2 linked regions of the Homo sapiens genome follow. The protein of the gene in region 1 purifies or fractionates together with the protein of each later gene. This does not show direct contact. Each region holds a gene or a part of one and is shown on either strand. Other genes may lie near its edges.

The links. The genes of interacting proteins can lie anywhere in the genome.
Region 2: the proteins of ADPGK (region 1) and TOR1B purify together in Homo sapiens (affinity purification with mass spectrometry; 2 studies listed by BioGRID and IntAct, with this or other methods). This does not show direct contact.

What each region holds. Positions count from the first base shown.
Region 1 is NC_000015.10:72,756,259-72,759,758, forward strand, and holds part of ADPGK (ADP-dependent glucokinase isoform 4 precursor), read right to left. Parts: intron 2,032-3,500; coding exon of another isoform or gene 1,807-2,031; intron 190-1,806; coding exon 1-189. UniProt on the Homo sapiens protein: Catalyzes the phosphorylation of D-glucose to D-glucose 6-phosphate using ADP as the phosphate donor. GDP and CDP can replace ADP, but with reduced efficiency.
Region 2 is NC_000009.12:129,801,762-129,805,983, reverse strand, and holds the start of TOR1B (torsin-1B isoform 1 precursor), read right to left. Parts: upstream 2,801-4,222; 5' UTR 2,772-2,800; coding exon 2,573-2,771; intron 1,912-2,572; coding exon 1,646-1,911; exon of another isoform or gene 1,505-1,645; intron 1-1,504. UniProt on the Homo sapiens protein: May serve as a molecular chaperone assisting in the proper folding of secreted and/or membrane proteins. Plays a role in non-neural cells nuclear envelope and endoplasmic reticulum integrity. May have a redundant function with TOR1A in non-neural tissues.

The sequences.
Region 1 (3,500 bases):
GTCTCTTCCTCTGGAGCTCCTTGCTTTGTCCCTCCATCATGTGCAATCCAGAGAGGACCACCAGGTCTGGCTGAAACTCCTCCAGGCTAGACACAAACACCTCCAGCATATTCATGGCCCCGTTGGAGAGGTCGTGAGAGAAGATGAATCGGTTGGCATGGGGAGCTTTTAACTGGCCCCACTCCTCCCCTGGAAAAACCCAGTCAACACAATGGGAAGAAAAGGAAGAGGCTTTAGGTCTCCTAGCTGTGGGGGCACTTTCAGGCACCTCACAGGAGCCTTGGCTCCAAGCAGGCTGGTTTCTGGCTGAGGAGACCCCAGCAACAATGGCCTAAGGTCAGCATGGCACTGCAAGAAACAAACCAAAAACCTAAACCCAAACCCAGCCAAGAAACAGAAACATAGTATGGGTGCTATATGCCTTTTTCAAGGTAATTAGCTCCCCCTGAGTCCCAGGAGAGCCCTACTTGAGCTCTCAAACACAGGAGAGACAGTACAGAATGGCAGCATGACTTCCAAATACCAGCATACAGTGTGCAGCACGCACGCCCTGCAGACAGTATAGGCTGTCATTGTTTAAAGCACATTCTTCCTCACAGCATTGCCCTGAGCATCTTTCATTCAGTTGGAACTTAAGCAGGCTGAATTTCTTCCCAACAGCCAAGCTCACTGCATCTCCTCTTCCCTGCTGCCCATCAGTGGTTTCTGGGCACCTGATCCAAAGGATCAGACTATCTAGCTGCTCCAGTTGCTTCTATGTGAGTTGCTTTAGAGGAATGACTGTTTAAAGACCCAAGTTCAAGTGCTAGTTCCTCCCTAAACATGAAGCCTTTCCTAATCCTACCACCCCTAAGCAGACTTGATTACCTCCTTTCTGGGGCCACCACTGTACCCTAATACAGGACTGAGGCACATGATTTTGCAATTCCTTTTTCTTTTTTCCTTTTTTTTTTTTTTTTTTCTTCTGAGATGGAGTTTCACTCTGTTGCCCAGGTTGGAGCGCAATGGCGCGACCTCAGCTCACTGCAACCTCTGCCTCCCAGGTTCAAGCGATTCTCCTGCCTCAGCCTCCCGAGTAGCTGGGATTACAGGTACCCGCCACCACGCCTGGCTAATTTTTGTATTTTCAGTAGAGACGGAGTTTCACCATGTTGGCCAGGCTGGTCTTAAACTCCTGACCTCAGGTGATCTGCCTGCCTTAGCCTCCCAAAGTGCTGGGATTACAGGCGTGAGCCACCATGCCCGGCCTGCAATTACTTTTTCCAAGTGTCTATCTCTGGCAGTAAACTGTGAGCTGAGGGCAGGGCCTGTGTCATCCTCTGTCGTATTCCTTCTGCATCATGCTGTGTCTGGCATATAGCCATGGGAATGAATTAACAAAAGAACAAGCAAATAAGAGAACAGACTGATGACCTAAATGCCCATGACAACAAAAAATATGGGTATGAACCCCAAATCCAACATTTTGCAAATCAACAAAGACTCTGTACGATGGGAAAAATACATTACATTGACATTCTCCAGAGAGCAAGACGTGGACTCAACCCTTGAATAGTGACACTGCTAGGAAACACGACCTAACTGAACCTAGGAGAAAGGAGCCACACTGTATTGAAAATACACTGATTTCTTCAGGAAGTGACAGAGGCAAAAATAAACAGGCTCTTCTGCAAGGCAAGGATGAGAAGAACCGTGCAGAGCTGCTTGCTGTTTCCACAGGAAACAAGGCAGCAGATGCCAAGAGAGGCTGGAACCTGAAGAAAACCACCAGCTGAGATCTGTGAAATTCTGTAACAGTGCCATTACCTCCAAGAGTCTCTTCCTCTGGAGCTCCTTGCTTTGTCCCTCCATCATGTGCAATCCAGAAAGGACCACCAGGTCTGGCTGAAACTCCTCCAGGCTAGACACAAACACCTCCAGCATATTCATGGCCCCGTTGGAGAGGCCATGCAGGGGGCAGATGCAAATGGATCTAATTCTGCCTGTAATGGTAGTTAGCGCCCCTCTTTCCTCACAAAGTGTTGTATTCATTCCTGTAAGCAATCTCTTCTCAATGTATCATCCTGCCCTCAGCCAGTAAGTCAGCAAAACCTCTGCGTAGTGACTCACTGGATTCCCAGCCCAAGCCTGACAATGGGCTTCTCTGGGGAGATCTGGTAAGAGAGAATGTGGAAAAAAAAATGGACAAATCCCTTGGAATTTCCCTATTGAGGTCAGAGACAAGCTGGGAATGGATTTCTGTTGAGAGAGCTGAGCCCAGGGCTACTGCCACTAGACTAGGCTCCCTCCTTGGACCTAGGAAAATGTCACCTCACAAAGTTTAATGGAAGTCCACTGCTTTGTATGCAGAAGAGGCATAGGAAAGAAAAACTGAAGTGTGAAGCTTATAAACCCAAGGATGGAGACACTCTCTTTGTGCGGTGAACTGTGCTGTCTCCTTAACTACATACGAGGCACAGCTGTCCAATACAACATCAAAGTCTTGCTGAAGACGTAAGACTCTCCACTCTGTAGTCACCAGGAAAAATGACAAACCAGGAATCACAAAGGTCCCCAGTTCCTGCTGTGGGTGCCAAAAAAACTGACACGAATCTGGAACTCATGGCAGCAATACCTCAGGGGCTCATCTTTAGCAATTCCAGACCCTTCCAGTCCACAGTCAGGTCATTCTTTTATTTATTTATTATTATTATTTTTTGAGACGGAGTCTCGCTCTGTTGCCCAGACTGGAGTGCAGTGGTGCAATCTCAGTTCACTGCAACCTCCGCCTCCCAGGCTCAAGCAATTCTCTGCCTCAGCCTACTGAGTAGCTGGGATTATAGGCGCCCGCCTCCACACCTGGCTAATTTTTGTATTTTTAGTAGAGACGGGGTTTCACCATCTTGGCCAGGCTGGTCTTGAACTCCTGACCTTGTGATCCACCCGCTTCAGCCTCACAAAGTTCTGGGATTACAGGCATGAGCCACCACGTGCGGCCAGGTCATCTTTTCATCCAAGCTGCTCACAATGTTTCCGCACACCAACCAATCTCTTAATCCTTACCACAATGATCAGGCAGTAAAAACTATTACTCTTACTTCCCATTTGGGAAAACTAAAGCTGAGAAACTCAAAAACTTGTGTAGCATTAAGTATGAATTGCCTACGTCAACGCTGTGTCCCTAATTTTCAGACCCTATCCTTCTTTAATTCCCAACTGATTCTAGTAAGCACCCGAAAGAGAACCAGAACATGTTACAACTCTTTTTTCTACCTGGAGAAAGGCATAATTCTCAAGAAATAACATAGTTCATATCTTATGTTAAAGTTAATTACTCTAGTAGAGAAGATTCTCTTAATTGACTTGGAAGTAGTTCACTGAAGAGTATTAAGTGCTGCTTTAAGGTACCAATTAGTCTGTTTAGATGCTTGAGTCTTTAATGTGTATTAACAATGTGTTGAATCAGAAACTCAAGAGTCTGAGTTCTGAGCAGAGGGAAAATTACAGCAGGAAATACACAG
Region 2 (4,222 bases), on another chromosome or scaffold:
ACACCTGGCTAATTTTTTTATTTTTTGTAGAGATGGAGTCTTGCTATGTTGCCAGTGGGAATGTTAACCTTGACAAGGACAACATTCATTTAAATGAGAACTAACCCTCCTAGACAACTTAATATAAAATGAATGTGGAAACAATATCTCAAAAGGAGAAACAGTCTCAAGGTTCAGTTCTTTGAGGCTTCCTTTGAAGAAAGCAATGCCAAGGACATGAAGGATGGGAGGAACAAAGGGAATAAAACCTGTTAAGGAGAAAAAAGACCTCTAGGCTACATTGCAAAGAGCAGAGGCAAAGCTGAGGCTGCACCAGAGGTGGGCAGCATTGAATGAAGCCACACCGGAGCAAATCCTTGAAGACTGACTGCCCCTTCTCACCAACTGCACTGCTGGGGATGTGGAATCCCTTCACTCACCAGAGAAGGTGGCTACCATGTCAACTGGGAGTTGGGAGGTTTTGGTTCTGCTACAAAGGTCCTGTTCTGCTACAAAGATTGTAGGAGTAAGTCACCTTGCCTCTGGGCTCCAGGCTCCATCTTTTTTTTTTTTCTTTTTTTTTGAGACAGAGTCTCATTCTGTTGCCCAGGCTGGGGTGCAGTGGCCCATTCTCAGCTGACTGCAACCTCAGCCTCCCAAGTAGCTTGAATTACAGGCGCACGCCATCACGCCCGGCTAATTTTGTATTTTCAGTAGAGACGGGGTTTCTCCATGTTGGTCAGGCTGGTCTCGAACTCCCGACCTCAGGTGATCCGCCCGCCTTGGCGGATCCCAAAGTGCTGGGATTACAGGCGTGAGCCACTGCACCTGGCCCTGACTACATCTCTCTTTTTTTTTTTTTTTTCTGAGACAGAGTCTCACTGTGTCGCCCAGGCTGGAGTGCAGTGGCGCGATCTCGGCTCAGTGCAAGCTCCGCCTCCCGGGTTCAGGCCATTCTCCTGCCTCAGCCTCCCGAGTAGCTGGGACAACAGGTGCCCGCCACCATCCCCGGCTAATTTTTTGTATTTTTAGTAGAGACGGGGTCTCACCGTGTTAGCCAGGATGGTCTCCATCTCCTGACCTCGTGATCCGCCCCCCTCGGCCTCCGAAAGTGCTGGGATTACAGGCGTGAGCCACTGTGCCAGGCCTTTTTTTTTTTTTTTTTTTTGAGACCGAGTACGGTGGCGCGATCTCAGCTCACTGCAACCTCTGCCACCCAGGTTCAAGCGATTCTCCTGCCTCAGCCTCCCAAGTAGCTGGGATTACAGGTGCGTGCCACCGTGCTCAGGTAATTTTGGTACTTTTAGGTAGAGATGGGGTTTCACCATGTTGGCCAGGCTGGTCTCAAACTCCTGGCCTCAAATGATCCGCCCGCCTCGGCTTCCCCAAAATGCTGGGATTACAGGCGTGAGCCACGGCGCCAGGCCCTTGGCTCCCCATCTTTTAATGGAAATAACATCCCCTACCCCACTGGACTGTTTTGGAACCAAGTAAGAGAAATGTTGTAGGAGAGCTTTGTAACTACCTGGACTAAGTGTGCCTTAACTCAGTGGAGCCGGGGGCTACAGCAACACAAAGGAAAGAGAAGCAGAGGCCAGAGTTAGTGAGCAGGTCACCCGGACCAGTCCGACTGGCCTGCAGACGAGATAATAGCGGGTTCTCTTGCCTGGTACAGTTTTATCTTCTGCTCATGAGGGAAGTGCAGAGTCGATACAAACAGGTGGACAAAGTTACTCTTCAGACCTTTTGGGTGAAGATTTTCAGCCACAATTTGACTGACAAAATTCTTGCCTGTGCCAGCCCAGCCGTGTAAGGAAAGGGTCAGTGGTTTCTTGGGATTTTTGTTGTTCCTGAAGCCAGTCAGCGCCTTGAAAATCACTTCCGTGGCTAGATGCTGTCCAAACAGCTTCTCCTCCAAATCCAGCTTGAGAGCTGCAAGAACAGCCCCAGAACAAAGAGAGAAACAGACCTTAAAAATGCATCAGCAACGCAGCACTTTCTTAGCTGGCCAAAGCAAGAAGCACAGATTATCCAGGGACACAGCAGGGTGTCTGCCACACCCTAGGGCCGAGGCAGTCAAACGATGCCACTTTCAAGATTATGTGGAGGTCCTTAACGCTTCGGGGTCTGATAAGGAAGCTAAATGTTCATTCATTCAGAGATGAACCATCGCTTGACTGAGCGCTTGCTAATCCCAGCCACCCTTGCTGACCTGCAGGAAAACCAGGGGCCAAATGTGGGCTTTCTGGGCGACGCAGCACGTCTGAAAACTACTTAATAGGGTTGGCAGGGCGCAGAAGGGCCGCCCGCCTACTTTCCGTTTCTTCCACCTGTGATCCCAAGGAACGGGAGCTTTAGAAAGGCGCTGGGGCAGCCCCACGATCTGGAGACTGTTTGCGAAGGCACCGCTTCTGCGTTCCCGCGAACGGTTCCGGGGCCGCCCCATCCGCTCCCCGCCCACCCCAGCTGGGACCACCGCCGTCTAGATGCCACGGGCCCGGTCCGTGCCAGGCGCCCACGAGGCCGTCCCTCCGCGCCCCCGCGCCCCCGCGCCCCCCGCAGCGCCGACCCACAGCTCGCGCGCGCGCCGTACCCGAAGCGTTGAGCGGCCGCTCCTCGCGGCAGCACTCGGCGAAGCGGCAGTAGATGTCATTGTAGGACAGGTAGCCGGTGATGGCCGACGCGGCCCCGATGGCTAGGCCCACGGTGATGGGCTCGAACGCCGCCACCACTCGGGCCGCCAGCAGCAGCGCCAGCGCCGCCGCGCCCCGGAGCCACCCAGCCCGCAACATCCCGCTCCTCGAAGCCCGCAGAAGCCACTGAGCCAGGCGCCCCGCGGCCAAGCGGCAGGACGGACTTCCTCTCGTGCGTCACTTCCGCCCCGCAGACCCGCCCACTCCCTTGGGGGCGGCCATGTTGGTGAGGGGCGGAGAGGAGGGCGGTGCCATCGTTCTTGGGAGTGGTCCGAAGGTGTAGGAGACTGTTTTGTTTCCCTTTTCTTTTAAAAAAATTTTTTCGGGCCGGGCGCGGTGGCTCACGCCTGTAATCCCAGGACTTTGGGAGGCCGAGCCGAGATCACGCCATTGCACTCCAGCCTGGGCAACAAGAGTGAAAAAATATCTAAAAAAAAAAAAAAAAATTTTTTTTTTTTGGCCGGGCGCCGTGGCTCACGCCTGTAATCCCAGCACTTTGGGAAGCTGAAGCGGGCGGATCACCTGATGTCAGGAGTTCGAGACCAGCCTGCTCAACGTGGCGAAACCCCGTCTCTACTAAAAATACAAAAAATTAGATGGGTGTGGTGGCGGGCGCCTGTAATCCCAGCTACTCGGGAGGTTGAGGCAGGAGAATCTCTTGAACCCAGGAGGCGGAGGTTGCAGTTAGCCGAGATCGTGCCACTGCACTCCAGCCTGGGCGACAAGAGCGAAACTGTCTCAAAAAAAAAAAAAAAGGCTGGCCGGGCGCGGCGGCTCACGCCTGTAATCCCAGCACTTTGGGAGGCCGAGGCAGGCGGATCACGAGGTCAGGAGATCAAGACCATCCTGGCTAACACAGTGAAATCCCATCACTACGAAAAATAGAAAAAATCAGCCGGGCATGGTGGCGGGCGCCTGTAGTCCCAGCTACTCGGGAGGCTGAGGCAGGAGAATGGCGTGAACCTGGGAGGCGGAGCTTGCAGTGAGCCGAGATCGTGCCACTGCACTCCAGCCTGGACGACAGAGCGAGACTCCGTCTCAAAAAAAACAAAAAAAAGCCAAAAAAAATTTTTTTAAACTTTCTTATATTTTTTTCTTATCTGATATGTATATTGGGGACAGGGTCTGGCTCTGTCGCCCCGGCTGGAGCGCAGTGGCAGGATCTCGGCTCGCTGCAAACTCTTCCTCCCAGGTTCAAGCGATTCTCCCATCTCAGCTGCTGGAGTAGCTGGGATTATAGGTGCCCGCCAACACGCCCAGCCAACTTTTGTGTTTTTAGTAGAGACGGGGTTTCGCCATGTGGCCCAAGCTGGTCTCGAACTCCTGACCTCAAGCGATCTACCTGCCTCCGTCTTCCAAAGCCTGGGGTTACAGGAGTGGGCTTATGGCTGGATTTGTTTTCTTCAGAGCTTCTCGGAGCCCTCAAGCTTTGCTTTGTTATCCCTCCCTTCACTTCGCCGGAGGTATAATGTGCGTTTCTTGGGTCGGCCCACCCGCCTGCCTTCTTCCTGAAACAGTTGCGAACTCTCCGTGCTGCGCCCTAGACTGAG